Linked DNA regions of Homo sapiens: all the other regions are linked to region 2. Evidence: fine-mapped expression QTL. A gene starts in region 2. Each other region holds a variant in brackets. All regions are shown on one strand. Distances are from middle to middle.

What was found.
Region 1: its variant is fine-mapped to the expression of ACP3 in blood mononuclear cells (TOPMed, PIP above 0.99).
Region 3: its variant is fine-mapped to the expression of ACP3 in whole blood (TOPMed, PIP above 0.99).
Region 4: its variant is fine-mapped to the expression of ACP3 in whole blood (INTERVAL, PIP above 0.99).

What each region holds. Positions count from the first base shown.
Region 1 is chr3:132,286,189-132,294,299 of GRCh38, forward strand. No RefSeq gene overlaps it. Among named protein-coding and RNA genes, the nearest start is that of ACP3, 27 kb to the right of the region's middle. The variant C/G (reference allele first, on the strand shown) is at 4,913.
Region 2 is chr3:132,313,001-132,321,111 of GRCh38, forward strand. ACP3 (acid phosphatase 3) reads left to right here and starts at 4,407. Exons shown (of 10, transcript NM_001099.5): 1 at 4,407-4,576. The coding sequence starts at 4,457.
Region 3 is chr3:132,338,291-132,346,401 of GRCh38, forward strand. It overlaps ACP3 (acid phosphatase 3), which reads left to right. Exons shown (of 10, transcript NM_001099.5): 6 at 4,262-4,354; 7 at 6,637-6,769. Among named protein-coding and RNA genes, the nearest start is that of ACP3, 25 kb to the left of the region's middle. The variant GGAGTAAAGTCTAC/G (reference allele first, on the strand shown) is at 4,323.
Region 4 is chr3:132,369,965-132,378,075 of GRCh38, forward strand. It overlaps LOC124909435 (a long non-coding RNA gene), which reads left to right and starts at 6,825. Exons shown (of 2, transcript XR_007096093.1): 1 at 6,825-7,398. The variant T/A (reference allele first, on the strand shown) is at 3,440.

The DNA of each region.
Region 1 (8,111 bases), 27 kb before region 2:
TGCAGTGGCATTGTCAGAGGCCTTTGAACCAGAGCAACTCCATCTTGAAAAGGGGCTGGGTAAAATAAGGCTGAGACCTACTGGGCTGCGTTCCCAGGAGATTAGGCATTCTAAGTCACAGGATCAGATAAAAGGTTGGCACAAAGTACAGGTCACAAAGACATGTACATTAATTATATGCACTAACTATAATGCATTATCATGCTAAAAGATATGCCCAGCAGTGCCATGACAGTCTATAAATGCCATGGCAATTTCAAGAAGTTACCCTATATGGTCTAAAAAGGGGAGGAATTGTCAGTTCTAGGAATTGCCCACCCCTTTTCTGGAAAACTCATGAATAATTCGCCCCTCGTTTAGCATATAATCAATAAACATAAAAATCGGCAACCAGCAGCCCTTGGGGCTGCTGTGCCTATGGAGTAGCCATTCTTTTGCTTCTTTACTTTCTCAATAAACTTGTTTTCACTTTATGGATATGCCTCAAATTCTTGCGTGAGATCCAAGAACAGCACAATCATGGCTCACTGCAGCCATCTTGGGTTCAAGCCATCCTCCCACCTCAGCCTCCTGAGTAGCTGGGACTATAGATAGGGGAAAGTCACCACACCCAGCTACCTTTGTTTATTTTTTGTAGAGATGGGGCTTCCACCATGTTGCCCAGGCTGATCTTGAACTTCTGGGCTGAAGCTATCCTCACACCTCAGCCTTCCTAAGTGCTAACATTACAGGCATGAGCTACTGCACGCAGCCTATTTTTTTAATTCTAAGGTAACTTCAGTGTGAGGCTAAGGTTGAGAACCAGGATAGTAAGAGATATAAAAGTATGTCTTAAATGAATAAGATAAACCTGTGTCTCTCTGAAGCTTCATCATCTGTGTCTGACACTTTTGTTGCCATTCACCCAATTTCTGAAGCCCAATGCCTAGGAGTGCCCCTTGATTCTCCCGTTAGCCTTAAATAATGAGGACCAGAAAAATTAAGTATAGAGTTTATAGGAGTCCAAAGCTTGAGGATGGCCACATGGGGGCATAGATTCAAGTTGCCATAAATATACACCCTGATTAGTAGCAGTTACTAGTTGAAGTTTTAAGGAGTAAAAGAAGAGGCAGTTCCTAAGTTGTTTACCAAGAATTTACATTAAAATAACATAAGCTAATGATTGGCTATATATTGTTCTTTGTATCACAAAAACAGGAAGAAAATGGATGTAGCAGCTAGTCAAGAACAAAATACCTTTAAACAATTGTCCCAGACATAGCGGAGAAGGTGACTGAAGTCCCATACTCATGTTTCTCTGAGCCTGATAAATTCTGCATATCTCACATAGCTCAGACTGCTCTGAGCTATTTTCCTTTTTTCCTTTTCTCACCCTTCTCCCTCACATCTCATATCCAATACTAGTATGTATTTTTCTCGTCCATTCACTTCTTTTGACTTCCCCAAATCCACCCTGATCCAAGCTACAATCATCTGTTTCCTGGGCCACTACAGTAGCCTCCTGGCTGTTCTCATTCCCTTTTTTGCTTCTCCATAATTCATTCTTCACAAGCAGCCACAGAATTTTTAATGCATATCACTCCCCTGATTAGAACTCCCCATTTGGCTTCCCATTGCATTTTGAATAAATCCAAACTCCTCACCATGGCCTCAACAAGATCCTGGGTGATTCAACACCTTCCTACCTCTCTGACCTTGTCTGCTCCTGCCCTTTCCCATTTTTACAATTCTTCAGTCACTCTGGCCTTTTTTCTTTCCTCTGAGACCACAATCTCACTCCCTGCCTCAGGGTTTTTACACTTCCTGGGATGCTCTGATGGCTCTCCCCTTTCCTGCATTCAAGTCTCACCTCAAATGTCACCTCATAGAAACCCTCTCTGACCACTCATCTAAAGTATCCCCCACCTCAAGTCACTCACAGTCATGTCACCTTATTTTATTGTCTTCACTGTAGTTCTCACTGTTACAGGACCAATGGGTTTGTATGTCCGCTGTGCAGTATCAGACTGATAGGCTGAGACAACAGGGTTTGCAGCAGAGAAAGAGTTTAATGATTGCAGAGTGGTCAAGTGAAAAGATAGGAGGAGACTCAAATCCATCTCCCCAAGATGTTCTGCGCTGGGGTTTTTAAGGGGATCATGGAGGGCAAGGGCCTAGAAAATTGAGGTCATTAATTGGTCAGGTAAGCGTAATGAAATAATCAGGATGTGGAAATTGCATTCTTTGTTAAGTCAGCTTTTCATGGGGCCTCAGTGAGGTCCCTCAGACCAGTTGACATCAATAGTTTCACTGGTATGCAGGACCTGAAAGAATATCTCAAATGGAAAACAACATTTCACAATGTTTAAGTTGTTATCTACAGAACAGTTAAGTGGTGACAGGTCTGTGTGATTCTGGGGTAACAGGCAGTGAATAACTCTTAGTAGGCAGGTCAGAGAGTAAGCTGACCTCATGATTAATGGTGAATGTGCTGCGATCTTGCTTTATTTTTATTTCTCCCCCTCTTTTCTACTCTGATTAACTTTCTGAAGTCTATAGGGATGGTTTCATCATTATCTGAAATTATCCTGTTTATTTATTTGGTTACTCGTTTACTATCTCTCTCTGCTAAAATATATTTCATTTTAAAAAGAAACTTGTCTATTTTGTTCACTTCAGCATTGTAAGAACCTTGAACAGTGCCCGACACATATAGGCACTCCATAAATATTTTTTTGGATGAATGAATATGAGGCAATAGGCATGGAAATAAAAACCAGGTTTTTTCAACTGAAATTGAAGGAGAAGAGCTCTTTCTTCTTAGGTGAAGCTTAGAGCAGCCTTGGCCCTAGCTTCAATTGGAAAGATACATAGTTTACAAAATTGAAGCCAAACAGGGAGCAAAGAAGAATGGAATAGATGAACGTCAGTGGCAGTTTTATTCCAAGTTCCCACTGATCTTTTCCCTTTCTTTTGTTCAGTAACATGAAGCAAAAAATTATTTTCCTTGCCTAAAATGAATCAGATTAGATTAGATTTCTGTTACTTGCCTCCAAAGGAATCCTGAATACTATAGTGGACAACAGGCTTCAAAGAAAGTTCCAACATTGGAGGCTGAGAAGGGGACTCTGGTCAGGAGCCCATTACCTAGACTGAGACCCCACTGTTCCTCCCATCAATGCCAAGCCAAGAATATAAAAAATGCCCTTCACAGAAACAACCAGGGAGGTGTGATCCTCAGATATGCTTTCAAAAACAAACTTGCCCATAAATTCCAAGGAGAGCAGTTAGCTGACATCCTCCAGCTGCAGTGCCTTTGGGATCTACTCTAGTGTTTGACCTGAGGCCACATTCTTTTCTGGTAGCTCCAGATGACTAAGCATGGCAGGGGTACCAGGCCTGAACATTTTTTGCCCCACTCAAGATTCCTCTATTGCACTGGAGCCCCCATTTTGCAGGCTGTCTTTCTCTGGGTTGCACTAATCTGAGGCTCTCCGGACCCAATCCTCCTTCTTCCCACTCTCCTTTCCCAGTTATTGGACCTGCATTATAGTCTGAAGGCTTTCCCTCCCTACTCCTTTATCAGCCATTACTCCTACTAAATTGAGTGCCCTTCTAACTGTCTTGGCATTTGCTTTCTGGAGGAGCCAACCAGCACACTAACCAAGTGCAGGGCAAGGCCAACAGCTCTCATGCTGTCTAGGGGCTGGTGTGAGGAAGAAAGCATGAGATGCAGGTACAATGGAAGGAGGGGAGACTTCTGGAAGATCAATAATTTATGGGTCCACAGCAATAACTTGTTTGTGTCTATTGAAGGGAAAACAGAGAGAAGAAGCTGAAGAAGACCATTAATAGCAGCTATGATTGAAATAAAGCAGAGAGAAGAAACATCTCCCTGGGAACTTTCCTCCTCCTTTCTTGTTGGAATTTTGTATAGACCACCATAAATCAGATGTTTATGGCTCTGAATTCAAGCGCTTTACTTATAACATATTCCTTTAACTATGGCATTGATCCCTGTGATGCTGAAGGTACGTTCACATAGCTCTTCGCATTTCCTGAAAAAGGAGAGGGGAATTCTCTTTCATTATAACAGGATGTCCTCTCTGTCGATGGCCATAGACATTCCTTGTAGGAAGCTGTTTCAGAATGCTGAAGATTGACTTGTCCAGCAGTTACCTTCCCAGGTCCAATACATTGTGATCTTGTGCTGTTGGTGACATCCCCCAGCCTCCATATTTGTCTCCTTGGCTTCTGCTTCTAGATACCACTATTCCACTCTCTTGTAAACTTTCTAGCTTTGTTTGATAACATCAAAGGAATAAGGATTTTGGCTGGGTGCGGTGGTTCACACCTGTAATCCCAGCACTTTGGGAGGCCGAGGTGGGTGGATCACCTGAGGTCAGCAGTTCAAGAACAGCCTGGCCAACATGGTGAAAACCCATCTCTACTAAAAATACAAAAATTAGCCAGGCATGATGGTGGGTGCCTGTAATCCCAGCTACTCAGGAGGCTGAGACGGGAGAATCACTTGAACCCGGGAGGCAGAGGTTGCAGTGAGCCAAGATCATGCCATTGCACTCCAGCCTGGGTGACAGAGCGGAACTCCGTCTCAAAAATAAATAAATAAATAATAATAACGGTTTTGGAGTTAGCCAGACCTGAGTTTGTCTTCTTACACAGTGCTACTTAGCTATCTGCCTTTCAAGTATGTTATGAGGATTAGATGAAATACAACGTGCCATGAGACTGGCACATGCACAACATACAGTAGGCACTCCATAAATAGTGTCCTCTCTTCCTCTCTTTCTCTTCTAAGGCGAAACATCTGGTGTTCACTCTCTGACCTTGCCTTCATAATTGCCATTCCTTACCCTTTTGCTGAAGCTCTTGCACAACTTCCTCTGCCACCCACATCATCTCACAACCACAC[C/G]CACAACTGGAGTTTTACAATTACCCATCTGTCTCTCAGTTAGGATGTCCCATATTCCTCCTCCTCCAAAACGAGGAAACTGTAGTAACAGCATAATTAACAATGTATTACTAATGTTATAGTAGATCCAGTGGTGGGCTGGAGCCAGTTTGTACTGGTTTACAATAACCAATTGTTAAACTTTCAGTAATTTTGCCAACTGGTTGTTAAATGCAGCCATTACTAAAAATTAAATGTTAAAATAAATTATATTTAAAATGAAGGTAAGAATACTCAAAACTCATCACTTACAAATTATTTTACTGCATTTTATTATTTATGCTCTTGAAGTTATTTTCACTTGTGTCTGCATAATGGGAATATTGTATAATGGTGTGCCCGTCTCTTTCCACCTCCATGTAAAGTCACATCATGTTGGTAGCTTCAAATCAGCCATAGTAGGAGTATTTTCACCATGGAAATTGAAAAATGCTGCAAATTATAGAAAATTATAACTTTTTTTCAGAGCCAGTTGTTAAACATTTACAACATAGCACTCAGTGGATCCTTTTGAATATGATCCAATAATAATAACAGCAACAGCAAAATAACCAATAATAGCTAAAGAAATGAGCTATTTTTTAAAGAAATTAATTACCATCAAGATATCCCCATCAAACCATTTGCAATTCCCTAGACACATCATGCTCCCTCATGCCTTCATGTCTTTTTCATTGATCTAAGTACCAGGTTAATAAATGATTAAATGAATGTTTCTCTTCTGAGCAACCGTATATTCTGTGCTTGTTTTGTTGGATTTATCTCATAATTGTTTATCTTTTCCTACAACATAGTATTCTCCTTGAGGCAGGGACTTTGTCTTTCAACCTTGGCATTCCCAAGGACTGCTCATAGTAGAAAATCAACAAATGTTTGTTGAATGAATAAAACATTTGAATCATTAGCTTATCTATAGCAATAGTTCTCAAACATTTAGTCTCAGGACCCCCTTATACCCTTAAAAATTATTGAGGATCCTTAACAGCTTTAGTTAATATGGGTTGTGTCTACTGATACTTACAATATTCAAAATTAAAACTGAAAAAATTTTAAAACACAAGAATACATAAGCACACATTCAATTTGTCATGAGAGTAATGATGTCATCACATCACATAGCTTCTGGGAAACTCCAGTGAATCTTCATGAGAGAATGAGAATAAAAAAGAAAATAATATTTTAGTGTTGGTGTGAAACGTTTTTTGTTTTGTTTTGTTTTGTTTTGTTTTTGAGATGGAGTCTCGCTCTGACGCCCAGGCTGGAGTGCAGTGGCACAATCTCGGCTCACCACCACCTCTGCCTCCCGGGCTCAAGTGACTCTTCTGCCTCAGCCTCCCCAGCAGCTGGGTCCACCGGCATGTGCCACTATGCCAAGCTAATTTTTGTATTTTTAACAGAGACAGGGTTTCACCATGTTGGTCAGGCTGGTGTCAAACTCCTGACTTCATGATCCACCTGCCTCAGCCTCCCAAAGTGCTGGGATTACAGGCATGAGCCACCACGCCTGGCCGGTGTGAAAATACTTTGACCCCACAAGCCCCCTGACTAGATCTCAGGAATTCCCTGAAGGAGTCTCAGGGGCCCTCTGAAGGGTCTCAGGACCCCCAAGCAACACATTGAAAATCACTGCCTTATAGTAATTCTTCAACTAAATAAACTAACTCAGAAAAAAACATTCCACAGAGTTAGGTACAATGGATTTGATGATTTAGGATTAAGCACAGTAACTCTGTCCCAGAGGGAACTTGGAGAAAGGTGGACTGGTAGTCATTTGATGTGAGTCATTGTTTTGTGGATTAAATAATTTTGTAAAGTGAAAACGTGGTACTAAGCACATTAATCAATTACATATTTTTGATAGACTTTCTATAGGCTGAGGTATTTTTTAAATCAAGTAATTGGCATATTTTAGCAACCGATATTTTGGGGTATATTTTATGACTCTTGACCTTACGCTGGAAGCAGCACTAACTTTAAAACTCTCCAGCTACAGAACCCTAGTCTCCTATCAGGCTTTCTGAGACTGAGAAGAAGTGGTCAATAAATAGTGATTCCTGTGGTTTCCTTTTGAATTAAAGACTTTTCTGATTGAAACATTCATGCAGCTTTATAATCTGGTGTGATTAGTCCATTCTCACACTGCTATAAATACCTGAAACTGGGTAATTTATAAAGAAAAGAGGTTTAATTGACTTACAGCTCCACAAGCTGTACAGGAAGTATGGCTGAGGATGTCTCAGGAAATTTGCAATCATGGCAGAAGGCAAAGAGGAAGCAGGCACATCTTACATGGTGGGAGTAGGAGAAAGAGAGTGAGGGGGAAGGTGCTACACACTTTTAAAACACCAGATCTCATGAGAACTCACTCATTATCATGAGAACAGCAACAGGGAAGTCCACCCTCAGTATCCAATCACCTCCCACCAGGCCCCTTCTCCAACATTGGTGATTACAATTCAGACATGAGATTTGAGCAGGGAAACAAGTAGAAACCATATCACTGGTCAAATCCACTAATGTCTGTACATTACCACAATAATTATTATTTAATTGTTTAATTTTAAACAGATGAGAAAAGAAAGCCACTACTTCATTTTCCAAAATAGGGAGTATAAAAATCTTTTTCTTTCCTGTATCTATATAATATCCAAAATTATGTTACAGAAGTATTTTTGCTTTTCTCATGCTAAGAATACCAGTTCTTTCTTCAACATTATTTCTAATAAGCAGTTTCAGATAAAGAGTATGAATGTCAGGTTGCTCAGTTTCCACTCTTGTCAACTCTATTAAGTTTATTATGTAAAAAAGAAGAATGAAATGAGATAAAATGGATATATTTAGGATGTTTCGGGATGCCAAAACATTACTACTTTTACTATGACATAACAGAGGATGCCTTAATGCCTTATCACAAAGCTTTTCCCATTAAGCATCACAAAGGGTTCTATTTTTTCTTACAGTAATTCCCCTTTGAGGATAATATATTGCCATACTTCCTAAAGGAGGGTATATTTATCTTAGATGATGTATTCAGCAAAGTGTGTGTGTGTGTGTGTGTGTGTGTGTGTGTGTGTGTGTTAGAGAGGTGGGGGTAACATAATCATGGAGTATGTACCCCATGATAAGTAATTTAAAATTTTATTTTTATTAAAATAAACAC
Region 2 (8,111 bases):
TTAGACCATTGCATGAATCCCCTAGGTACACACACCTTAGTTGATGACATTCTTATGATACAGTCTTTGGTTTTATGGGGGATGTTTGTCTAAATACTAAACAATAAAATAGTTATTTTATGCCGAGGGCAAAAAGGCCCTCCACAAAATGATGGTTTGAGAAGAGGAGAACATTTATTCTAAAGCCATCTTATTAAATTTTGCCTCAAAGCAATTCACATTGTAACAGGGCTCTGATGCAGTCATTTGCATTTATATTGACAGTTGGTCAATCAGTATTATTGAGTACCCAATAGTTCATAAGGCCCTGAGAGTCAAATAATACAATTATGAAGGCCATAAGAAGCCAGACAGGTTAAACACAGTCTTCCTTGTGATGCTGGTGAACAGCCATATACTTACTGATGGATCTCACCTCCCAACTCAGACTCTTATGGTCAGAGGCATATTTAGTGCTTTCATAGGCTGTGATCTACTAAGGATCACAATTTTTTTCCTATAAGTGTTCATCATCATAGATTCTGTGTTACACTGCCCAAGGATTCATTGCTCCTAGCTCTTGGAAATTTGTTTGACATCACTCAGCTAGCAACCCCTTTGGGAATTATTTTGGCAGAAGAGAGTCACCTTTGCCTTATCCATGGTCATACTCCCTACCAGGGGCAGACTACGTCCAATGACTGGCTAATAAAAAAGGCCTGGCTCCTCACCTCAATTCAAGACAACCCTGAAAGGCCCTCCTATCTTCAGAACTTGTAACAGGGTCAGCTGACATCTTCAACAATATTGCATTACAAATCAACTTCTCCCTCTGCCCAACCTTGGTTATTTCTCTACCCACCACTGGAGTTAATCCTGAGTGCACTCCTTAATAAACTTCCTACATGCAAATATCTATCTGGGAGTCTGATTTTCAAAAATCCTAACCTGCTCCACTTATGGAACTTTCTAACTGTTCATTAGAACAGTTCATTTGAGGTTGAGCACTTGACATATAGAGAAAGAAGTACAACAAGAGAACACAAGTGATTCAGTCAGTAAGTCCTACTAATCATGGAAAATTATTGACACCCTAAACTCTTACATAAAGACTTCCCAGTGTTTTTTCAAATCTCACTTTTGATGTTACTATGATATGATTTGGCAGTGTCCCCACAAAAATCTCATCTTGAATTGTAACTCCCATAATCCCCACATGTCATGAAAGGTACCTGGTGGGAAGTAATTGAATCGTGGAGGAGGGCTTTTCCCATGCTATTCTTGTGACAGTGATTAAGTCTCATGAAATCTGATGGTTTTATAAAGGGCAGTTTCCCTGCACACACTCTCTTGCCTGCTGCCATGTAAGATGTGCCTTTGCTTCTCCTTCACCTTCCATCATGATTGTGAGGCCTCCCCAGCCATGTGGAACTTTGAGTCCATTAAATTTATTTTTCTTTATAAATTACCCAGTCTTAGGTATTTCTTCAAAGCAGTATGAACGTGGACTAATACATACTATATCCATATATTTATCCCAGATGACCCTTATGTCTTTGCAAAGACCTTATTGAGTTCAAAGTTCAAGGTGCCACAGAACATTCTAAAACAGGTTTCATCTGAGTTGAGGATCTTTTACACTCCATTTCATGGTGTTCAGGTTTTTCAAGACTCTACATTTATGACTTTGAATACTTCTTCTCCCCTTATAACTGAATGATCAAAGTGGAAGTGAGGATGATGATTGAGATAGAAGTATAAACCATTTAATTCAACTTGGATTAAGTTTGAGTTGAGATGTATTCAATTCAAGCAGGCTTTTTCTGGTTTTCAAAGAAAACTTTGTTGTTGTTGCCCTTCTCACTTGAAGAGCTAAAAGGACCCCACAGGCGGTACCACAGAAAAAATTAGGGTCTAGGTCAGAAAGAGGGTTTATCCAACCAGTGCAACATGGTATAGGTAGATTATAAAATCAGTCTTCATTATCAGGAAGGTCTAAGGCTATTGCTGAAATAGTTCCAAGCACCAGTCCAAGGGTGAGACAAGGAAGGAGATAGAACAAGGACCCAGGCAGATAGCTGAGAAAATAAGGCATTCAATAGAAGCAGACATCTGGCACAATTTAAGAAATGTGGTTCAGAAATTTGCCTGTGAATGGTACATAGGTGCTGGAGCTTCCTTTCTCAGATTGCCTGGTGCACACAGCAGGGATTAATGTATCAACTTCATGTATGCCCTGGACTGGAAAACCTCCCAATTTTTATTTCCTTTTTCTTGCACCCATTTCCTCAAAATCTTACTCATTAAAATTGACAGTGTAGACTGGCAGGTCGAGAATGTGATGGCAAAGAGAAAGTTGCAAGTTCCCTTGAATGGTTAATCCTAATCACACATGCATTTATTATTTGCACATTTTTTTTTTTTTTTGGAGGGGGGACAGAGTCTCACTCTATTGCCCAGGCTAGAGTGCAGTGGTGTGATCTCAGCTCACTGCAACCTCAGCCTCCCGGATTCAAGTGATTCTCCTGCCCCAGCCTCCCAGGTAGCTGGGATTACAGGCTCCCACCACCACACCTGGCTAATTTTTGTATTTTTAGTAGATATGGGGTTTCACCACATTGACCAGGCTGGTCTCGAACTCCTGATCTCAAGTGATCTGCCCACCTCAGCCTCCCAAAGTGGTGGGATTACAGGCGTGAGCCACCATGCCCAGCCTATTTGCGCATGTTTCCTACTGCCGGAAGAAGGAACAGTTCTCCCATATACCACATTCCAGGGCATCCTATGATCACATAAGAACACAATCCTCCTGCCACAGGTAAGCGCAATGTACCAGGAAACAGGTTGCGGGTAAACCATTGTTCTCCCTCTGCCATTATGATAGAAATATCATGACAGGCAGCTCTGCCCCCAAATCTTGCAAAATCTCAATGTGCACCTCAAGTTTGTATTGTTTTAGCCTATGATGGAACTGACAGGTTGGGGAAAATGGAAAGCAAAGTTCCATCAGTCTGGATCGCCTTTTGTAGTGTCCCCAGTGAGATCATAGCTGGAGAGGCAAGGATGTAACTCACTCAAAATTTAAGGCTTATGGCCAAAGTTGATGACTAATAATATAGAATTGTAGGTTTGGGCTTTTTGCTTTCTTAAAAAACTCTGTCAGGTTTGGAAAGGGACCTCCAATCTAATTTTGAGATACCACAGGTAATGTCCAATTGTCTTAAGGTGTGACTAAAATTTTTCTTTTGTTTGTTTTTTGTTGTTGTTTGTTTGTTTTGCTGTGTTTTGAGATGGAGTCTTGCTCTGTCACTCAGGCTGGAGTGCAGTGGCACAATCTCGGCTCACTGCAACCTCCACCTCCTGGGTTCAAGTGACTCTCCTGCCTCGCCTCCCAGGTAGCTGGGACTATAGGCATGTGCCACCACGCCAGGCTAATTTTTTTTTTTTGTATTTTTAGTAGAGATGGGGTTTCACCATGCTGGCCAGGCTGGTCTTAACTCCTGACCTCAAGTGATCTGCCCACCTCGGCCTCCCAAAGTGCTGGGATTACAGACATGAGCCACCACGCCCAGCCTAAAATTTTTCAAAATAAACTTGCTGTTACTTTTCTTCTTTAATTTAAAAATACCTCTATAGGCTACATGAGAGTTTTTGAAAAAGTAGCCATGTTTGGCATGGAAATAGGCCCCAAATATGTCAACACCTGTATTTCCTTCCAGATTTCAGTCCTATAACTTTGGACTCCCAACAGATTAAGAATCACTGGTCTAAGGTTTCTAAAGTCAGGGTAGATCCCTTTCCCAAGTGACAGCCACAAATCCAACGCTGTATCATACCCTATCTAAAGAAAAGATAAAAGTAAACTGGCTTGGCACAGTGGCTCATGCCTGTAATCTCAGCACTTTGGGAGGCCAAGGCAGGCGGATCATGCGGTTAGGAGTTGGAGACCAGCCTAACCAACATGGTGAAACCCCGTCTCTACTAAAAATACAAAAATTCGCCGGGTGTGGTGGTGCACGCCTGTAATCCCAGCTACTCAGGAAGACTGAAGCAGGAGAATTGCTTGAACCTGGGAGGCGGAGTTTGCAGTGAGCTGAGATTGTGCCACTGTGCTCCAGCCTGGATGACAGAGCAAGACTCTGTCTCAAAAAAAAAAAAACAAAAAACAAAGATAAAAGTAAACTGAAAACAAGGATAGAAATGTCTGCTAACATGCTCTGTGACCTTGATCAACAGCTTTCCCCGCTCTTGGCCTTGGTGTCCTAACTTAAATGGGGAAACTGTGATCTCTCTCAGCTCAAAATTTACATGACATTATTTACATACCAAACCTGCCCTACGCTTCCTGGAAACTTTACTACTTATGAGTGTGGCTCCTCCTTCCCTTTCAATCCCTTAATTAAATAGCTTCCCCTCTACAGGCTTTTGAAGTGGTAGCAGTTCCTCCTAACTCCTGCCAGAAACAGCTCTCCTCAACATGAGAGCTGCACCCCTCCTCCTGGCCAGGGCAGCAAGCCTTAGCCTTGGCTTCTTGTTTCTGCTTTTTTTCTGGCTAGACCGAAGTGTACTAGCCAAGGAGTTGAAGTTTGTGACTTTGGTAAGTAGACTTTTCTCATTGCTTTTTCCTTAAAACTGTGTTCCCAGCAAAGTCTGATAAGGCAAGCGTCAGGTTTCATCTTATCCTTGGATTGTTTCCCAGAGACCAGGCTCTGTTCAAACTCAGAAAGTGAATAATCAAGTTTTGCAAGTTCCTCTTAATGAAGACCTAACGTGTCCTAACAAAAATATTTTTTGGTCGCTGTTTTTTTAGGGGTTGCTTTTTATTTGCTTTTGCTGATGTTATTTATTTACTTACTTTACAACTGCCTTGAATTCAGATTCCTTTTGACAGCCACACCAGTCCAGAAGAAACCACAGCTGGCGCTGTTTATGTACCAAGAGCTGGCTTCATTCAATTTAATCATTATTTGTTTGCAAGCCAAAAAACAGTCATTTTCTGAATTAAGTAGTCCTTTCACCTTTGTTTATCAGGAAATTAGAACAACTATTTGTAAACAACCTTGAAGCATAAAAGTGAATCTAAATTTGGAATTTTAGGATGATTTTCTGATATATAGATTTAGTTGACGATTAAAATCATTGGCACATGTGACCAGTTATGAAAAAAGGTGGGGGGTGGCTGATGCATAATATCAAGAAAAGAAAATATACTGTTGACATTGTTTGAAAATAGATGGAAAGAGGGTTTGCAAAGTGAAGGGGATTCATCATGTTACCTAAGAGTCTGATTTTCTGTTTCTGTATCTTTTTTTCCTTCTGTTTCACTCTTTCTCTGCCTCTAAGCCTCTAAGCTGCTTCTTGCCTTTCCTCTCTCGTTTTCTTTCTCTTCCCTACATTTTTTTATTTGAGATAGTGAAAGTGGGCTGATAAGTAGGTAAATTTTCTTTCTGTCAAGAATACTCAAAAATTATTTTTATAATTTGAAGGAAAGTCACTGTTTCCTTAAAAATTAAAGTTCAGGCTTTTTTTTTTTTCAGCATGGGATATTCAAAGCTCTTTACTTTCTACAGAAAATATGATACCCATGTGCTTATTTGAATCATTATTCTTATAGTCCAGTAAATCCTTACTAGGTCATGAGTCAACAATGACAGAAAACCCAGTGAAACAAACTATCAATTTATTTACAAATGATTCACCAGCTGTCAGACTTCTGTGCAGAAAAAAAATATATAATACTGTGTGCCTTCTTTAGGGAAACCCATGTGAGCTAGGCTTGTACTTCTATCAGTAGTTTTCTTGCTAACATGTGCATGAGGCAAGTTTAGGGACTGTAGAAATTGTACTGCATCTGCCGTGCTTGTAATACTGTAAACCTGTGACAAGCTGGTTGAGTGGCAGTCCTCTGAGAAATCCAAGTTACTCCAAGCTCACTGTACATGATGTATTCCCTCCTCCATGTTTTACCCAAGTTAGCCCAGGCTAACTTCCTTTGACTACCAAATTGTTGTGGGTTTCCTATATTCAGGGACTGCAAGTTAATTCTTTCCTGAGGAAAGCCAAAATACAAAGCTAGCTCTCTTAGAACTAAAAAAATTAACAAATATTGCACAAAGCCAGTGTTAACTATTTTTTCCTACCATGATTTCCTTCCATTAATGGTAGATGAAGGGCCATTTAATACATCTTTCTTGGCCCTTATAAAACAACGTCCATCTAAGTACTTAAGCCAATAAACATCAGTTTCTTATTTTTATTGACTAAAGAGAATATTTGACTATAAGTGGTTAATTTATACAAATGAGATAACTCTTAGAAAATTATTAGGAGAACCAGAATTGTTTTAAAAGATGCCCATAACTAAAGTGGTAATATTAATGATAATAACCAATAGTCAATTGAGTGCTTACTGCAAGTACTTACTGCAATTGAGTGCTTACAAGGCACTGTTCTGAGTGTTCAATATGAATTGTATCACATAAGCCTGTCAACAATCCTCTAAAATAAGGTCGTTAAATAAAATATGGGATGACCATTTGAATTTGAACTTCAGATAAATAGCAAATAATTTTTTAGTCCCATGCAATATTTGGGCATCCTGTATGTTTATTTGCCAAATCTGGCAACCATTCTATAAAGTTTTGTAAAACTTATTATTCCTATTTTATAGATGAAGAAATTGAGGCACAAAAAGGTTAAGCATCTTGCCCATGGTCACACAGATGGAATGGTGGAGACAGAATTTGAACCCAGGCTCTCTGACCCCGGATGCCTTTCCCTTTATCACTAGACATGGTCTTTTCCTGCTGTGTGTATATAACCCAGCACATGGAGCTAGTCTGAGATCCCCCTGTAAGGTTTGCTGGATTAGCTTGACTCTGAATCAGCAGGTGGTTCCCTTGCTTTTCCTCTGTGATCCGAGAAAAATAAATCCTCCCCAATTCTGAAAAGCTGTTCTCAGCAGAAAGAGGAGGAAACTGTCCTTGGTTCTTGTTCTCGGACTAACTGAAGTGCCTGTGACCCATGAAATGCTAGTTTGACAAGTTGTTAACAGGTGTACATGGGGAAAAAATCAGTTTCAATAGTCAAGTTAGCTTTGGGAATAGAACTGGGTTAAACTGTGTTTAAAAGGTCTCTTTAATGCAGTAATCCTAAGTCTTTAACATGCTAATACGCACTGTGGCTTTCAAGGAAAGGATCTAGTGTTTTCCAAACTCTGTTTTCAAAATTTTGATTACAGCATTCACCTCCCTCTTTTTTTCCCCAATGTCCTGTAGAAAACACTGAGAGAACTGACATTTTTAACTTTATATGGAAAGAATCGTAAATATGGTGAATCTGGATGTCCTCATCAACCAGCTTCAAAGACTATCACCCATGCAATCTTGTTTCATCTGCATAGCCACTCATTTCCCACACACACCCACTTGAGTTTTTTAAGTTATTTCATGCACCATATCATCCAGAAATAGAAAAATGTCATTTTAAAGCATCCTGTCTCCCCTAACCCAGAGAAAACCCACAAGTTCAGCTGATCCAAGACAGAAAAATTCCATCTCATTTCACCGGTGTTAAGAAAGGAATGATGACTTACAAGGTATACACTCTTCTCATTCTTCATGGTTGACTTTCTTCATGCAGAATTCTTAATCAAGTAATATAATATTCTTGGGTTTTTTTTTTTTTTTTGAGACAGAGTCTTACTCTGTCGCCCAGGCTGGAGTGCAATGGCGTGATCTTGGCTCACTGCAACCTCCGTCTCCCAGGTTCAAGTGATTCTCCAGTCTCAGCCTCCCAAGTAGCTGGGATTACAGGCGTGTGCCACCATGCCTGGCTAGTTTTTGTATTTTTAATAGAGACTGGGTTTCACCACGTTGGCCAGGCTGGTCTTGAACTCTTGACCTCAGGTGATCCACCAGCCTTGGCCTCCCAAAGGGCTGAGATTACAGGCGTGAGCCACTGCGCCTGGCATAATATGATATTCTTGATGGAAGCAGCCTCCAAATTCTCAGCACATAATCTATATACTGGAATGGGTAACTTCCACATTATGGACATGAAGGACCTCCTAGCTACTAGGGAAGGTGGAGCTAGAGGATCACTTGAGCACAGCAGTGTGAGGCCACATTGAG
Region 3 (8,111 bases), 25 kb after region 2:
TTCCATTTAAGAAAATATATTGGAAATATTTCTATATCTGTATGTAAAGAGTTTCCTCCTTTTCTTTCTTTTCCTTTTTTTTAACAAATGTGTAATATTTATATTTATGCCATAATTTATTTAACCAGCCCCTATTGATAGGAATATGGGTCATTTTTCAATCTTTCATTTTTACAAACAGCATGTATGAATAACTTGTGCATCTAAATAGTTTCACAAGAATACCTGTGGGATAATATCCTAGAAGTAGACATTCTGGGTTAATCTGAAATATTATTAATTTACCCTCCAAAGAGGTTTTACTACTTTCTACTTCTATCAGCACTGCATGCAAATGCCCATTTCTCCACAACTTTGCCAACAGTATGTGGACCACTCTGGGGATATTTGCCAATCTGGTAAGTGGAAAATAATATCACTAGAAGCATCCATCTCCTCTAAAATTAGGAATAAGACAAGGAAGCTCACTATTATAACTACTGTACAACATCGTGCTATAGTACTTTTCTTCTTGTGATGAGTGAGTTTGGGTATCTTCATCTAGTTAAATACCATTTTTTGGTTTGTTTTTTGATATTGTATTTCTTTTTTAACTTTTATTTTAAGTTCAGGGGTACAAATGCAGGTTTGTTATATAGGTAAACATGTGTCATGGGGGTTTGTTGTACAGATTATTTCATCACCCAGGTATAAAGCCTAGTACTCATTGGTTATTTTTCCTGACCCTTTGCCTCCTCCCACCCTTCACCTTCCAAGAGGCCCCAGTGTGTCTTCTTCCCCTCTATGTGTCCGTGTATTCTCATCAGTTAAATGCCATTTATATTTCCTTTTATATCAATATCCCTTGACTATTTTTCTTTTGGATGATTGATTTTCCTTTTGCTATAAGTTTTTAGAAGCTTTTTTCTATGTATTTTAACATTTCTGTCTGTGATATTTTGTGTGTGAAAAAAAACACACTCAATGTGTTTTTTCCTATTTTTCTCACTTGAAAACACCAATCAACACAGACAGAAGACTTCTGTGACCAAATATGGGGGATCTCTCTGCAAGAAAAGGCAGCCCGTTCTGCAGTAGACACCAGCTGGGTGGCCTCCAATTCAGTTTTGACACCATCTATTTGGAGATAGCATCAGATCCTACAGGTTGAGGGCTCAGGCCCCAAAACTGGCCACCCCCAACCCGCCACCTCAGACACAGATGAAAGTCCAGACCTCCAAACTTCTGACAGGCTGGCTTTAAGTTGGGGTTCCCACAACTTCCTCTTTGGGTTCGATCAGTTTGCAGGGGCAGCTCACAGAACTCAGGGAAACACAGTTATTGGTTATTACAAAGGATATTACAAAAGATATAAGGAAAAGGTCAAGGAGCTTGCCTGCCTTCTTCAGGACCACCACATTCCAGGAACCTCTAAGTGTTCAGCTCTCTGAAGGCTCTCTGAACCCTCTCCCTTTGGGCTTTTTATGGAGATTTCATTGCATAGGCATGATTGATTAAGCCACAGGCTATTGGCTATCAACTTAAATTTTAACTCCCTCCCCTCCCCAGAGGTTCTGAAGTAGGGCTGAAAGTCCCAACGCTCTAATCCCGGCCTTGGCTTTCTGGTGACCAACCCCCATCCTGAAGCTGGCCAGGGACTGCCAGCCATCAATCAATCATTAGCATGCAAAAAGACATACTTTGGAGACTCCAAGGATTTTAGGAATTCTATGGCAGAAAATGGAGATGAACACCAAATAGAAGGCCGGGCACAGTGGCTCACGCTTGTAATCCCAACACTTTGGGAGACCAAGGTGGGTGATCACCTGAGGTCAGGAGTTTGAGACCAGCCTGGCCAACTTAGTGAAACCCTGTCTCTACTAGAAACACAAAAAATTAGCCAGGCGTGGTGGCAGGCGCCTGTAATCCCAGCTACTCAGGAGGCTGAGGCAAGAGAATCACTTGAACCCAGGAGGCGGAGGTTGCAGTGAGCCGAGATGGCGCCACTGCATTCCAGCCTGGGCAACAAGAACGAAATTCCGTCTCAAAAAAAAAAAAAAAAGACCAAATATATATTTCACAATATCATAGATAATGAATGGCATTTTTAAAAAAAAGTTTGTCTATTAACTGCTTACCGTGTTCTTGCCATGTAGGTTCTGTATCAATGTATTCTTATATGGCTTCTATATTTTGAGTCATGTTTAGAAAAGCTTTCCCCACTCCTAGGTTATAAAGGAAGTCTGCAATGCTTTCTTCTAATTCCACTCTAGCTTCATTTCTCATTTATATATTGAATTCATTTACAGTTCATACTGGTAGAAGGTATCCTGTTTAAGTTTTTTCCTGGAAGATTATCTAATTGCTCCATCATTGTTTATTGAATAGTTCATTTTTTTCCTACTTATTGAAGCTATTATATATTAAAATTCCCATAGGTGTGGGGTCTATTTATGTAATTTTTATTCTGTTTAATTTTTTATTAGCCAAAACTTGGGTTTTAACTATTAAGACTTTATAATATGCTTTAATATCTAAAGGGCTAGTCATCCCTCATTGCTTTTTCTGAGTTTCCATGGCTATGTTTTAATTTTCTTTGTGAACTTCAGAGTCAGCTTGTCTAGTTCCAAAAGTATTTTTTAATTTTTAGTATTTTCATTAGGATCATATTAAATTTATTTAACTTAGGGAGAATTTGCAACTTTTCACTGTCAAATCTTCCTAAGAATATGGTACATGTTCCTACTTGTTTTATCTTAAAGATTATTTTAGGGTTTTCTTCATATATGTCTTTACATTTTTTGTTAAGTTTGTTTCAGGTTTACAGTATCTCCAGTTTTCAAAAATGTGTATCTCTGATTTCTTCCTTTTGCCTATTTGCACTGGCCACTACTTACAGTATAATGTTATGGGCAGTGTTGGTAGCGGGTATTCTTGTCTTATTTCTGATTTTAGAGGAGTTTTCCTAATAAGCATACAGGCTTTTGAACCAAAATAGACATATTTTTATGAAATTAAGGAAATATCCACCTTTCTTATTTTCTTGAGTGTATTTTTTTAAATCAATATTAGTTGTTTAATCTCCTGAATGATTGTTTTAACATTTTTTAATACAATCAAATTATTTTTCTCCTTGGATTAATTACAATGATTGATTACATTCATAGATTTACCAATGTTGAACAATCTTTATATTTCTCAAATCAAACCCATTTCCTTTTATGTGACATTGAATTACTTCCTGTTATTTTACTTACACCTTTTGCATTGATATTTACAAGTGGCATTGAACTAATAGTTTTATTTTGGGGGCAATCTTTGTCAGTATCAGTGTTACACTTAATTCATAAGAAGTTTTTGAAAGTTTTCTTTCATCTTCTATGCTCCAGAACAGTTAAAATAGCATTAGAATAATTTACTCTTGAAAAGCTTGGTAGAATTCCTCTATGACAGTCATCTGGCCCTGGAGCTTTTATGTTTGAGAAGATGGCAGTAGGAGCTCTTTAACAATAATTTCTATTATTTTATGAAAATCTATTGAGGTTAATATTGGCAAATTGTAGTTCCCTAGAAATTTCATCCATCAGACAGACAATATCTTCCAAAAAGGCTTCCCAGAAATGGCTGCCAATTTCAGCAGTCAGATAGCTGAACATTGGGTCTCATTATTGCGACATTCCAAGAAACATACAGAACCTAGCGAAAGATTTGCATTCCATCCAAGTTTTATATGTATAGCCAAAGACCAAGCCCTATTTGTGTTGCATGTTCCAGGATGCTTTGGCCTGAAATATGCTTTCCTTTCTCACCTGGGACATATTTACACATGAGTTATACTTTACCCACTTCTAAAAAGAATCTGAGGCAGTACACTTCAATCCAATTCCAGCACGAACCAGGAACATGTGGCAGTCAGCCAGCATCTATCTACATTTTAAATGTAATAATAAGGAATAATCAATTCGTGTTTGTAAAATTCTTTGGAATGACATTATCGTAACCAATATTACTGGTGCATTTTTCTGTGAAGAACAGCGGTTCTCAACAGGGGCGCATTTGCCTCACAAGGAACATTTGGCAATGTCGGGAGATATTCTGGGTTATACAAGTGGGAGATTAGGAATGCTACTGGCATCTAGTGGGCAGAGGCCAGGATACTGTGAAACATCCTATAATGCACAGGAGAGCTCCCTACAACAAACAATTGTCTGGCCCAAAATATCAATAATGCTGAAGCTGAGAAACCTGTGTAGGAATTTTTCTTTCTCTGTTTGTGTTTCAGGATTTTATAGCTACCTTGGGAAAACTTTCAGGATTACATGGCCAGGACCTTTTTGGAATTT[GGAGTAAAGTCTAC/G]GACCCTTTATATTGTGAGGTAAAAGAAAAAAAAATCACAGGTTAACTTGCAATCTGATTTTATGATTTATGCTTATTTTGAAATAGATGAATATCTTTTCTTTCACTTCTTTATGAATGTATTACTTATACTTCTTTTGACATTGAAACGTAATTCACAACTTCCTTATATTAACTTGAAAATGCTGACTTCTCTTTTCTCTCTATTATTATTTATGTTTTCACCCTTTAGAAAATTACAAGCAAAATTGCTTTTCTTCTATGAGTTTCCACTTTAGTTTTTTCCCCCCTTGGATTCAGTAGGAGCTTATTTATTTTGCAGCCACTCAAAAATGCTGGGTTCCTGTCCTTGGTCTTAATGAAAAAACAATGTTGTTATAAAGAAAGAGGGGAAAATTACCTGATTTCCGAATGTAGAAATAAACAAGCAAAATATAAGCCAGGCTATTTATATTTGCTTAACAAGAAAGAACTTCTTTCTTGCTTTGCGATGCATTTGAAATACCGTTTGTGGCCAGATAAATTACGATTGCTTTTCAAGGTTACATGGTGTTTCTCACTCACCATGCTCCACCTTCTGGCCAAAAGGAGTACTCTCTGTTCCTGTTTTCCCAACTAGCTCACTAAATATGGGGCAAGATTCTGACCACCCACCTAATTCATATTGACTTCTAACTTTGAGGTCATCGTGAGAGTCTGGGGGGCAGCAATTACTTCCGTAGTTCTATCTTAATAACAGATGACACAGTTTGCCTCCATCCATCCTAAAGTTAATTGACCCAATCACATGCTACTTTCCCAGTATTTTCACTTAATCATCAGCAACTATTTCAGTGAAAATTCATTAGCATTGTAAAAGACTCTTCAGTGAAAACAAGAGCCCCCATTTTTGTTCCAGTCATAATTTTTTTTTCTTCCTTACTACAGTTTGATCTGAGCTATTCCAAAATGTGGTCATGTCATGTGATATTTTTTCCAAATCTCTCTCACTTATTTCCTCTGTAGGTCACTCCACTTTGGTCTCCTCTTTCACGAACTCACTTTCTCTCACTCTTAATCCTGCCTTTGAAACTGGGGGACTCCTAATCAACTCTTCCTAACGGGTAATAAATATTGGCACAAGGTCTCACCTGCCCTGCTTGTACTTAACCATTCATTTAACGCATATTTACCAAGTATCCACTGTGTGCAAGGTGCAGGCTTTCCTCAAGAGTCAGTGAACTACAGCCAGGTATGGTGGCTCCTGCCTGTAATCCCAGCACTTCTGGGAGGCTGAGATGGGAGGATCATTTGAGGCTAGAAGTTCAGGATGAGCCTGGGCAGCATAATGAGGCCCTACCTCTACAAAACACTTTTAAAAATTAGCCACGTGTGGCCAGGTGTAGTGGCTCATGCCTATAATCCCAGCACTTTGGGCTAAGGTGGGCGGATTGCCTGAGCTCAGGAGTTCGAGACCAGCCTGGCCAACATGGCGAAATTTCATCTCTACTAAAAATACAAAAATTAGGCGGGTGTGGTGGCGCATGCCTGTAATCCCAGCTACTCGGGAGGCTGAGGCAAGAGAATCGCTTGAACCCAGGAAGTGGAGGTTGCAGTGAGCTGAAATCGTGCCACTGCACTCCAGGCTGGATGACAGAGCAAGATTCTGTCTCAAAAAAAAAAAAAAAAAAAAGTGCCACGTGTGGTGGCATGCACCTATAGTCCCAACTACTCAGGAGGCTGAGGTAGGAGGATTGCTTGAGTCCTGGAGTTTGAGGTTACAGTGAGCTGTGATGGCCACTGCATTCCAGCCTTGGTGACAGAGCAAGACAATGTCTCTGAAAAAAAAAAAAGAAAAAAAAAGTCAGCAAACTAGACCTTGATGGGGGTAGGGGAGAATATATTACTGAAGGCTCCAGAAATATATTGCCTTTCCTAACTGGCCTCTCAGGCAGCCCATTCAGCTTTTAAGGAAATATCATTTAACTCTGTCAGGTTCATAGAAAGATTTCTAACCCTTTCATAAAGGAATGAGGTATTATTTCCCTACTGCACCCTTACTCTGCAAAATATGAGCCACCCACTGATCCAGAGTTAAACCAAAAGCTATGGACTGGGTAGGAATGGGTAAATTCATTTATATAAGCTTTTCTTCTGAAAGTCAATACCACTACTTATCACAATATGAAGTTCTTTTAGAAAGAAATGGCAGGACAAGAAAGTCTGGCCCTACTAGTTCTTGTGAGGTGAAAAAGGATAAGTCAACAAAGAGGACAGTCATATAAATACACATACATTTTTCTTCCTTTTTCTTTGCTACAGAGTGTTCACAATTTCACTTTACCCTCCTGGGCCACTGAGGACACCATGACTAAGTTGAGAGAATTGTCAGAATTGTCCCTCCTGTCCCTCTATGGAATTCACAAGCAGAAAGAGAAATCTAGGCTCCAAGGGGGTAAGTATTAAAAAATGAGAGGAGCATATTGGATTTGTGGTTGAATGATCCAGGTCTGAGTCATTCCCTCCACTAATCAACTGTGTGATCTCAGACAGTTCACTTAATCACTCTTGCACCAGCTTCCATTCTGCAAAATGGGGATATTAATGATACCTACTTCATAGACAGTGAGTATTAAAATGAATGTATGTATTCAAATGGCTTAGAGCAAACAGTACCTGGTACATAATACACTGTCAATAAATGTCATATGTTAGTATAATCATAACTATTACTCACTCAAGCCCTTAGTTTTCTATCTGGAAAATGAAAGCTAAAGCTAAATGATCCTTTCCATCCCCTCCAGATCAAAAATCAAGGATCTGTGTCTGAGCCACATGAAAATCAATTGTGTCTTGTGGCCTATATGATGAATTTTTCAAGTGGGAGGTATGACAAAAGTGGCCTGTTTTCCTGAAACCCTGAGTGGTAGTCATTGTGAAAGCCGATAAAATATATTTTTCAGGCTAATTGTTATATTTTTCAGACCAATTATGTGCTGTTAAAATATGTTGCAATTGACAAGTTTATAACACAGCTTGAAATTTTTCATTGACATTGAAAGCTGTTGAGATTTATTTATCAGTGATGCCTCTTCTTGGTTAGAACTGGCTCTTCGTAGCACAGGACACCCTGTCATATGAAGGCAGACCCAGGCAAGAGGATGCTGGATTCTTGTAATCAGGATAAGTGGATGGAAGAAAAAAGTCAGGACCAGCAAAGACAAGGACAGATGTTGGGGCTTATGAGAGAAACTGGATGGGCAGGCCAAGATACCAAATGAGGTGTCAGACTTAGATGTGGTTATCATAGGTATTAAAACTAGGGATAAAGAAGAAGAGAAAGTTCATCATGTCAGGTTGACGTAATGAGGAAAGTCCAAGCCACAGGAGATGGTCCAAGTCAGGCTGACACACATATTCAAGGCATTTTGAGATTAATACAATCACATCATGATTCCAGCCATTGACAGACACTATTCACCACAGCATCAGGACAAGTCCATCAAAATCCCAAGAGAATGCATAGAGGCAAAGCATATTAGGGCTGGACCAGACTGGGAGGTTGTTCACTGAGGCTACTTAACTAGGGAAAAAATTCAAATCACTGACCAGAAAAGGAATCAATTATAGCTAGAAAAGCAGGGCTGCACACCAGGTATAAAGAGTGAGGCAAGCTGTAACCAGGGGAATGAGGTATGAAACCAGGATGGTCAGGAGCAAATTCATGTGAGATGAATAAAGTAGGTTGGGGCAAAAAATTTAGGACAGTGGCCATTAACGACATGAGGTTGTTGTAG
Region 4 (8,111 bases), 57 kb after region 2:
AATTGTGATTATTAATTGCTTGACTCTGACACCGACCTTATACAGGGTTGGTAGAATGTAAAAGTAAGAGCTTTCACAACACTTTTTCCATATCATCTTTTTTTTTTTTTTTTTTTTTTTTTTTGAGAGAAAGAGTCTTGCTCTGTCGCCCAGGCTGGAGTGCAGTGGCGTGATCTCAGCTCACTGCAACCTCTGGCTCCTGGGTTCAAGCAATTCTCCTGCCTCAGCCTCCTGAATAGCTGGGATCACAGGCCCGTGTCACTATGCCCAGCAAATTTTTGTATTTGTATCACAAGGGTTTGTGATAAAGGATTGATTTATTAATTACTATATTTTGCAAGAATTAACATTATTATCTTTAAAGCAAAATTAGAAATGCCTTTGATCTGGACACTCCCAAGTCTGGGTCTCTTCAGTAAACATTATTAATTTGTTCCTTTAACCATAAACATCTAGAGGCTAGGAATACCAAACTTTCTAGAAACACAGCCCAGCAAGTCCCAGCTTCATTTTGCTAGCCCTCACTCAAAATGGAGTTGCTCTGGTTCACACGTCTCTGACAGCAGGATTAAAAGATAATATGGGCCAGGTGTGGTGGCTTATGCCTGTAATCCCAACACTTTGGAGGCTGAGGTGGGCAGATCACCTGAGGCCAGGAGTTGGAGACCAGGCTGGCCAACATGGTGAAACCTCGTCTCTACTAAAAATACAAAAATTATCCAGGCATGGTGGCGCCCGCCTATAATGCCAGCTACTCAGGAGGTTGAAGCATGAGAATTGCTTGAATCCAGGAGGCAGAGGTTGCAGTGAGCCAAAGCTGTGCGGCTGCACTCCAGCCTGGGTGACAGAGTGAGATTCTGCCTCAAAAAAAAAAAGAAGACTGCAAGTAATCTGTATTCAAAACAAAAATAAATGCAGATAATACAATAATACAGAAGAGTATAAAATGCAAAGTGAAAGGTCTTCCTAACCAGTTTCAATCACTAGTGGCAATCCTGTCAACAATACCTGGTTTTATTTCTTCAAAGGAGAGGCATTAATTTTATAAAACATACTTTTATTTTCTGAAATTTTCACATCTTTCCCTTCTTTTACAACCCATGGTGTCCTCTTTCTTGTATTCTTTTTTTATTTCCCTGAAGCAATTTTTTTAAAAGATGCATGAACAGTAAGCATTCTGATCCTAACATCTAAACATGTCTACAGTGTGCCCTCACACTTACCTATTAGTTGGCTGGGTATATTCAGGTTGAAAATCTTTTTTTTTCTTTTTTTTTTTTATTATACTTTAAGTTTTAGGGTACATGTGCACACTGTGCAGGTTAGTTACATATGTATACATGTGCCATGCTGGTGCGCTGCACCCACTAACTCATCATCTAGCATTAGGTATATCTCCCAATGCTATCCCTCCCCGCTCCCCCCACCCCACAACAGTCCCCAGAGTGTGATATTCCCCTTCCTGTGTCCGTGTGATCTCATTGTTCAATTCCCACCTATGAGTGAGAATATGCGGTGCTTGGTTTTTTGTTCTTGCGATAGCTTACTGAGAATGATGCTTTCTAATTTCATCCCTGTCCCTACAAAGGACATGAACTCATCATTTTTTATGGCTGCATAGTATTCCATGGTGTATATGTGCCACATTTTCTTAATCCAATCTACCATTGTTGGGCATTTGGGTTGGTTCCAAGTCTTTGCTATTGTGAATAATGCCGCAATAAACATACAAGTGCATCTGTCTTTATAGCAGCATGATTTAGAGTTCTTTGGGTATATACCCAGTAATGGGATGGCTGGGTCAAATGGTATTTCTAGTTCTAGATCCCTGAAGAATCACCACACTGACTTCCACAATGGTTGAACTAGCTTACAGTCCCACCAACAGTGTAAAAGTGTTCCTATTTCTCCACATCCTCTCCAGCACCTGTTGTTTCCTGACTTTTTAATGATTGCCATTCTAACTGGTGTGAGATGGTATCTCATTGTGGTTTTGATTTGCATTTCTCTGATGGCCAGTGATGATGAGCATTTTTTCATGTGTTTTTTGGCTGCATAAATGTCTTCTTTTGAAAAGTGTCTGTTCATGTCCTTCACCCACTTTTTGATGGGGTTGTTTGTTTTTTTCTTGTAAAGCTGTTTGAGTTCATTGTAGATTCTGGATATTAGCCCTTTGTCAGATGAGTAGGTTGCGAAAATTTTCTCCCATTTTGTCGGTTGCCTGTTCACTCTGATGGTAGTTTCTTTTGCTGTGCAGAAGCTCTTTAGTTTAATTAGATCCCATTTGTCAATTTTGCCTTTTGTTGCCATTGCTTTTGGTGTTTTAGACATGAAGTCCTTGCCTGTGCCTATGTCCTGAATGGTAATGCCTAGGTTTTCTTCTAGGGTTTTTATGGTTTTAGGTCTAATGTTTAAGTCTTTAATCCATCTTGAATTGATTTTTGTATAAGGTGTAAGGAAGGGATCCAGTTTCAGCTTTCTACATATGGCTAGTCAGTTTTCCCAGCACCATTTATTAAATAGGGAATCCTTTCCCCATTGCTTGTTTTTGTCAGGTTTGTCAAAGATCAGATAGTTGTAGATATGCGGCTTTATTTCTGAGGGCTCTGTTCTGTTCCATTGATCTATATCTCTGTTTTGGTACCAGTACCATGCTGTTTTGGTTACTGTAGCCTTGTAGTATAGTTTGAAGTCAGGTAGTGTGATGCCTCCAGCTTTGTTCTTTTGGCTTAGGATTGACTTGGTGATGCGGGCTCTTTTTTGGTTCCATATGAACTTTAAAGTAGTTTTTTCCAATTCTGTGAAAAAAGGCATTGGTAGCTTGATGGGGATGGCATTGAATCTGTAAATTACCTTGGGCAGTATGGCCTTTTTCACGATATTGATTCTTCCTACCCATGAGCGTGGAATGTTCTTCCATTTGTTTGTATCCTCTTTTATTTCCTTGAGCAGTGGTTTGTAGTTCTCCCTGAAGAGGTCCTTCACATCCCTTGTAAGTTGGATTCCTAGGTATTTTATTCTCTTTGAAGCAATTGTGAATGGGAGTTCACTCATGATTTGGCTCTCTGTTTGTCTGTTGTTGGTGTATAAGAATGCTTGTGATTTTTGTACATTGGTTTTGTATCCTGAGACTTTGCTGAAGTTATTTATCAGCTTAAGGAGATTTTGGGCTGAGACAATGGGGTTTTCTAGATATACAATCATGTCATCTGCAAACAGGGACAATTTGACTTCCTCTTTTCCTAATTGAATACCCTTTATTTCCTTCTCCTACCTAATTGCCCTGGCCAGAACTTCCAACACTATGTTGAATAGGAGTGGTGAGAGAGGACATCCCTGTCTTGTGCCAGTTTTCAAAGGGAATGCTTCCAGTTTTTGCCCATTCAGTATGATATTGGCTGTGGGTTTGTCATAGATAGCTCTTATTACTTTGAAATAC[T/A]TCCCATCAATACCTAATTTATTGAGAGTTTTTAGCATGAAGGGTTGTTGAATTTTGTCAAAGGCTTTTTCTGCATCTATTGAGATAATCATGTGGTTTTTGTCTTTGGCTCTGTTTATATGCTGGATTACATTTATTGATTTGCGTATATTGAACCAGCCTTGCATCCCAGGGATGAAGCCCACTTGATCATGGTGGATAAGCTTTTTGATGTGCTGCTGGATTCGTTTTGCCAGTATTTTATTGAGGATTTTTGGATCGATGTTCATCAAGGATATTGGTCTAAAATTCTCTTTTTTGGTTGTATCTCTGCCCGGCTTTGGTATCAGAATGATGCTGGCCTCATAAAATGAGTTAGGGAGGACTCCCTCTTTTTCTATTGATTGGAATAGTTTCAGAAGGAATGGTACCAGTTCCTCCTTGTACCTCTGGTAAAATTCGGCTGTGAATCCATCTGGCCTGGACTCTTTTTGGTTGGTAAACAATTGATTATTGCCACAATTTCAGATCCTGTTATTGGTCTATTCAGAGAGTCAACTTCTTCCTGGTTTAGTCTTGGGAGAGTGTATGTGTCAAGGAATTTATCCATTTCTGCTAGATTTTCTAGTTTATTTGCGTAGAGGTGTTTGCAGTATTCTCTGATGGTAGTTTGTATTTCTGTGGGATCGGTGGTGATATCCCCTTTATCATTTTTTATTGTGTCTATTTGATTCTTCTCTCTTTTCTTCTTTATTAGTCTTGCTAGTGGTCTATCAATTTTGTTGATCCTTTCAAAAAACCAGCTCCTGGATTCATTGATTTTTTGAAGGGTTTTTTGTGTCTCTATTTCCTTCAGTTCTGCTCTGATTTTAGTTATTTCTTGCCTTCTGCTAGCTTTTGAATGTGTTTGCTCTTGCTTTTCTAGTTCTTTTAATTGTGATGTTAGGGTGTCAATTTTGGATCTTTCCTGCTTTCTCTTGTGGGCATTTAGTGCTATAAATTTCCCTCTACACACTGCTTTGAATGCATCCCAGAGATTCTGGTATGTTGTGTCTTTGTTCTCGTTGGTTTCAAAGAACAACTTTATTTCTGCCTTTATTTCGTTATGTACCCAGTAGTCATTCAGGAGCAGGTTGTTCAGTTTCCATGTAGTTAAGTGGTTTGGAGTGAGTTTCTTAATCCTGAGGTCTAGTTTGATTGCACTGTGGTCTGAGAGACAGTTTGTTATAATTTCTGTTCTTTTACGTTTGCTTAGGAGTGCTTTACTTCCAACTATGTGGTCAATTTTGGAATAGGTGTGGTGTGGTGCTGAAAAAAATATATATTCTGTTGATTTGGGGTGGAGAGTTCTGTAGATGTCTATTAGGTCCACTTGGTGCAGAGCTGAGTTCAATTCCTGGGTATCCTTGTTGACTTTCTGTCTCGTTGATCTGTCTAATGTTGACAGTGGGGTGTTAAAGTCTCCCATTATTAATGTGTGGGAGTCTAAGTCTCTTTGTAGGTCACTCAGGACTTGCTTTATGAATCTGGGTGCTCCTGTATTGGGTGCATATATATTTAGGATAGTTAGCTCTTGTTGTTGAATTGATCCCTTTACCATTATGTAATGGCCTTCTTGGTCTCTTTTGATCTTTGTTGGTTTAAAGTCTGTTTTATCAGAGACTAGGATTGCAACCCCTGCCTTTTTTTGTTTTCCATTTGCTTGGTAGATCTTCCTCCATCCTTTTATTTTGAGCCTATGTGTGTCTCTGCACGTGAGATGGATTTCCTGAACACAGCACACTGATGGGTCTTGACTCTTTATCCAATTTGCCAGTCTGTGTCTTTTAATTGGAGCATTTAGTCCATTTACATTTAAAGTTAATATTGTTATGTGTGAATCTGATCCTGTCATTATGATGTTAGCTGGTGATTTTGCTCGTTAGTTGATGCAGTTTCTTCCTAGTCTCGATGGTCTTTACATTTTGGCATGATTTTGCAGCGGCTGGTACCGGTTGTTCCTTTCCATGTTTAGCACTTCCTTCAGGAGCTCTTTTAGGGCAGGCCTGGTGGTGACAAAATCTCTCAGCATTTGCTTGTCTGTAAAGTATTTTATTTCTCCTTCACTTATGAAGCTTAGTTTGGCTGGATATGAAATTCTGGGTTGAAAATTCTTTTCTTTAAGAATGTTGAATATTGGCCCCCACTCTCTTCTGGCTTGTAGGGTTTCTGCCGAGAGATCCGCTGTTAGTCTGATGGGCTTCCCTTTGAGGGTAACCCGACCTTTCTCTCTGGCTGCCCTTAACATTTTTTCCTTCATTTCAACTTTGGTGAATCTGACAATTATGTGTCTTGGAGTTGCTCTTCTCGAGGAGTATCTTTGTGGCGTTCTCTGTATTTCCTGAATCTGAATGTTGGCCTGCCTTGCTAGATTGGGGAAGTTCTCCTGGATAATATCCTGCAGAGTGTTTTCCAACTTGGTTCCATTCTCCCCATCACTTGCAGGTACACCAGTCAGACGTAGATTTGGTCTTTTCACATAGTCCCATATTTCTTGGAGTCTTTGCTCATTTCTTTTTATTCTTTTTTCTCTAAACTTCCCTTCTCACTTCATTTCATTCATTTCATCTTCCATTGCTGATACCCTTTCTTCCAGTTGATCGCATCAGCTCCTGAGGCTTCTGCATTCTTCACGTAGTTCTCGAGCCTTGGTTTTCAGCTCCATCAGCTCCTTTAAGCACTTCTCTGTATTGGTTATTCTAGTTATACATTCTTCTAAATTTTTTTCAAAGTTTTCAACTTCTTTGCCTTTGGTCTGAATGTCCTTCCGTAGCTCAGGGTAATTTGATCTTCTGAAGCCTTCTTCTCTCAGCTCGTCAAAGTCATTCTCCATCCAGCTTTGTTCCGTTGCTGGTGAGGAACTGCGTTCCTTTGGAGGAGGAGAGCCGCTCTGCTTTTTAGAGTTTCCAGTTTTTCTGTTCTGTTTTTTCCCCATCTTTGTGGTTTTATCTACTTTTGGTCTTTGATGATGGTGATGTACAGATGGGTTTTTGGTGTGGATGTCCTTTCTGTTTGTTAGTTTTCCTTCTAACAGACAGGACCCTCAGCTGCAGGTCTGTTGGAATACCCTGCCGTGTGAGGTGTCAGTGTGTCCCTGCTGGGGGGTGCCTCCCAGTTAGGCTGCTTGGGGGTCAGGGGTCAGGGACCCACTTGAGGAGGCAGTCTGCCCGTTCTCAGATCTCCAGCTGCGTGCTGGGAGAACCACTGCTCTCTTCAAAGCTGTCAGACAGGGACATTTAAGTCTGCAGAGGTTACTGCTGTCTTTTTGTTTGTCTGTGCCCTGGCCCCAGAGGTGGAGCCTACAGAGGCAGGCAGGCCTCCTTGAGCTGTGGTGGGCTCCACCCAGTTCGAGCTTCCCTGCTGCTTTGTTTACCTAAGCAAGCCTGGGCAATGGCGGGCGCCCCTCCCCCAGCCTCGCTGCCGCCTTGCAGTTTGATCTTAGACTGCTGTGCTAGCAATCAGCGAGACTCCGTGGGCGGGCGTAGGACCCTCCGAGCCAGGTGCGGGTTATAATCTCGTGGTGCGCCGTGTTTTAAGCCTGTCGGAAAAGCGCAGTATTCGGGTGGGAGTGACCCAATTTTCCAGGTGCGTCCGTCACCCCTTTCTTTGACTAGGAAAGGGAACTCCCTGACCCCTTGCGCTTCCCGAGTGAGGCCCTCGCCCTGCTTCGGTTCGCGCACGGTGCGCGCACCCACTGGCCTGCGCCCACTGTCTGGCACTCCCTAGGAGATGAACCCGGTACCTCAGATGGAAATGCAGAAATCACCCGTATTCTGCGTCGCTCACGCTGGGAGCTGTAGACGGGAGCTGTTCCTATTCGGCCATCTTGGCTCCTCCCCCTGAAAATCATTTTCTACCAAAACTTTGAAGGCGGTATTCTGCTGTCTTCCAGCATACAGGATTGCTGATGAGAAGTCTATCAGTCTGATTCTCATTCCAATGTAAGTAATCTGTTTTGCTTTTTCTAATTCTTTTAAGATATTCTCTTTAGCTTAGAGTTCTGAAATTTCACCAGGTTGTGTTTAGGCATGGGTATTTTGGGTTTTTGTTTGTTTTCTGTCTAATTCTGTATGGCTGATATGATTTTTTTCCATCTAAAGACACTTGTCTTTCTCCAACTAAGAAAAATTGTGTTCTGGAACTTGAATTTCTTGGGTCTATCCTCCATGCCTTGAGTTTTCTCTCATATTTTCCACCATTTATTTTATTTCTCTACATTCCAGTAAATTTCGTTTTCCAGAACATCAACTTGGTCGTCAGCAAATCCATTATTCCTGTTTTACTTACGAGTATTCTTTTCTTTGGTATTTACTGACTGTTCTTTTTTTCACCGTAGCTGTTTTTTGTTTGTCTGTTTTCAGAAATGGGGTCTCACTCTGTTGCCCCAGCTGGAGTGCAATGGCAGTATCACAGCTCACTGCAGCCTCAAACTCCTAGGCTCAAGGGATCCTCCTGCCTCAGCCTCCCAAACAGCTGAGATTACAGGCACATGCCACCACACCTGGCAGCCTCATTATTTTATCAGTGCAATCTCCTCTTGAAAATCTTTAAGGATACTAATAATTTTTTCAAGTTCTCCTCTGCTCCCTAAATTATCTGTTTTCTCTGGGCTCAGTTTTTTGGGTTTATTAATCTTGGACCTTGTGTTTAATGC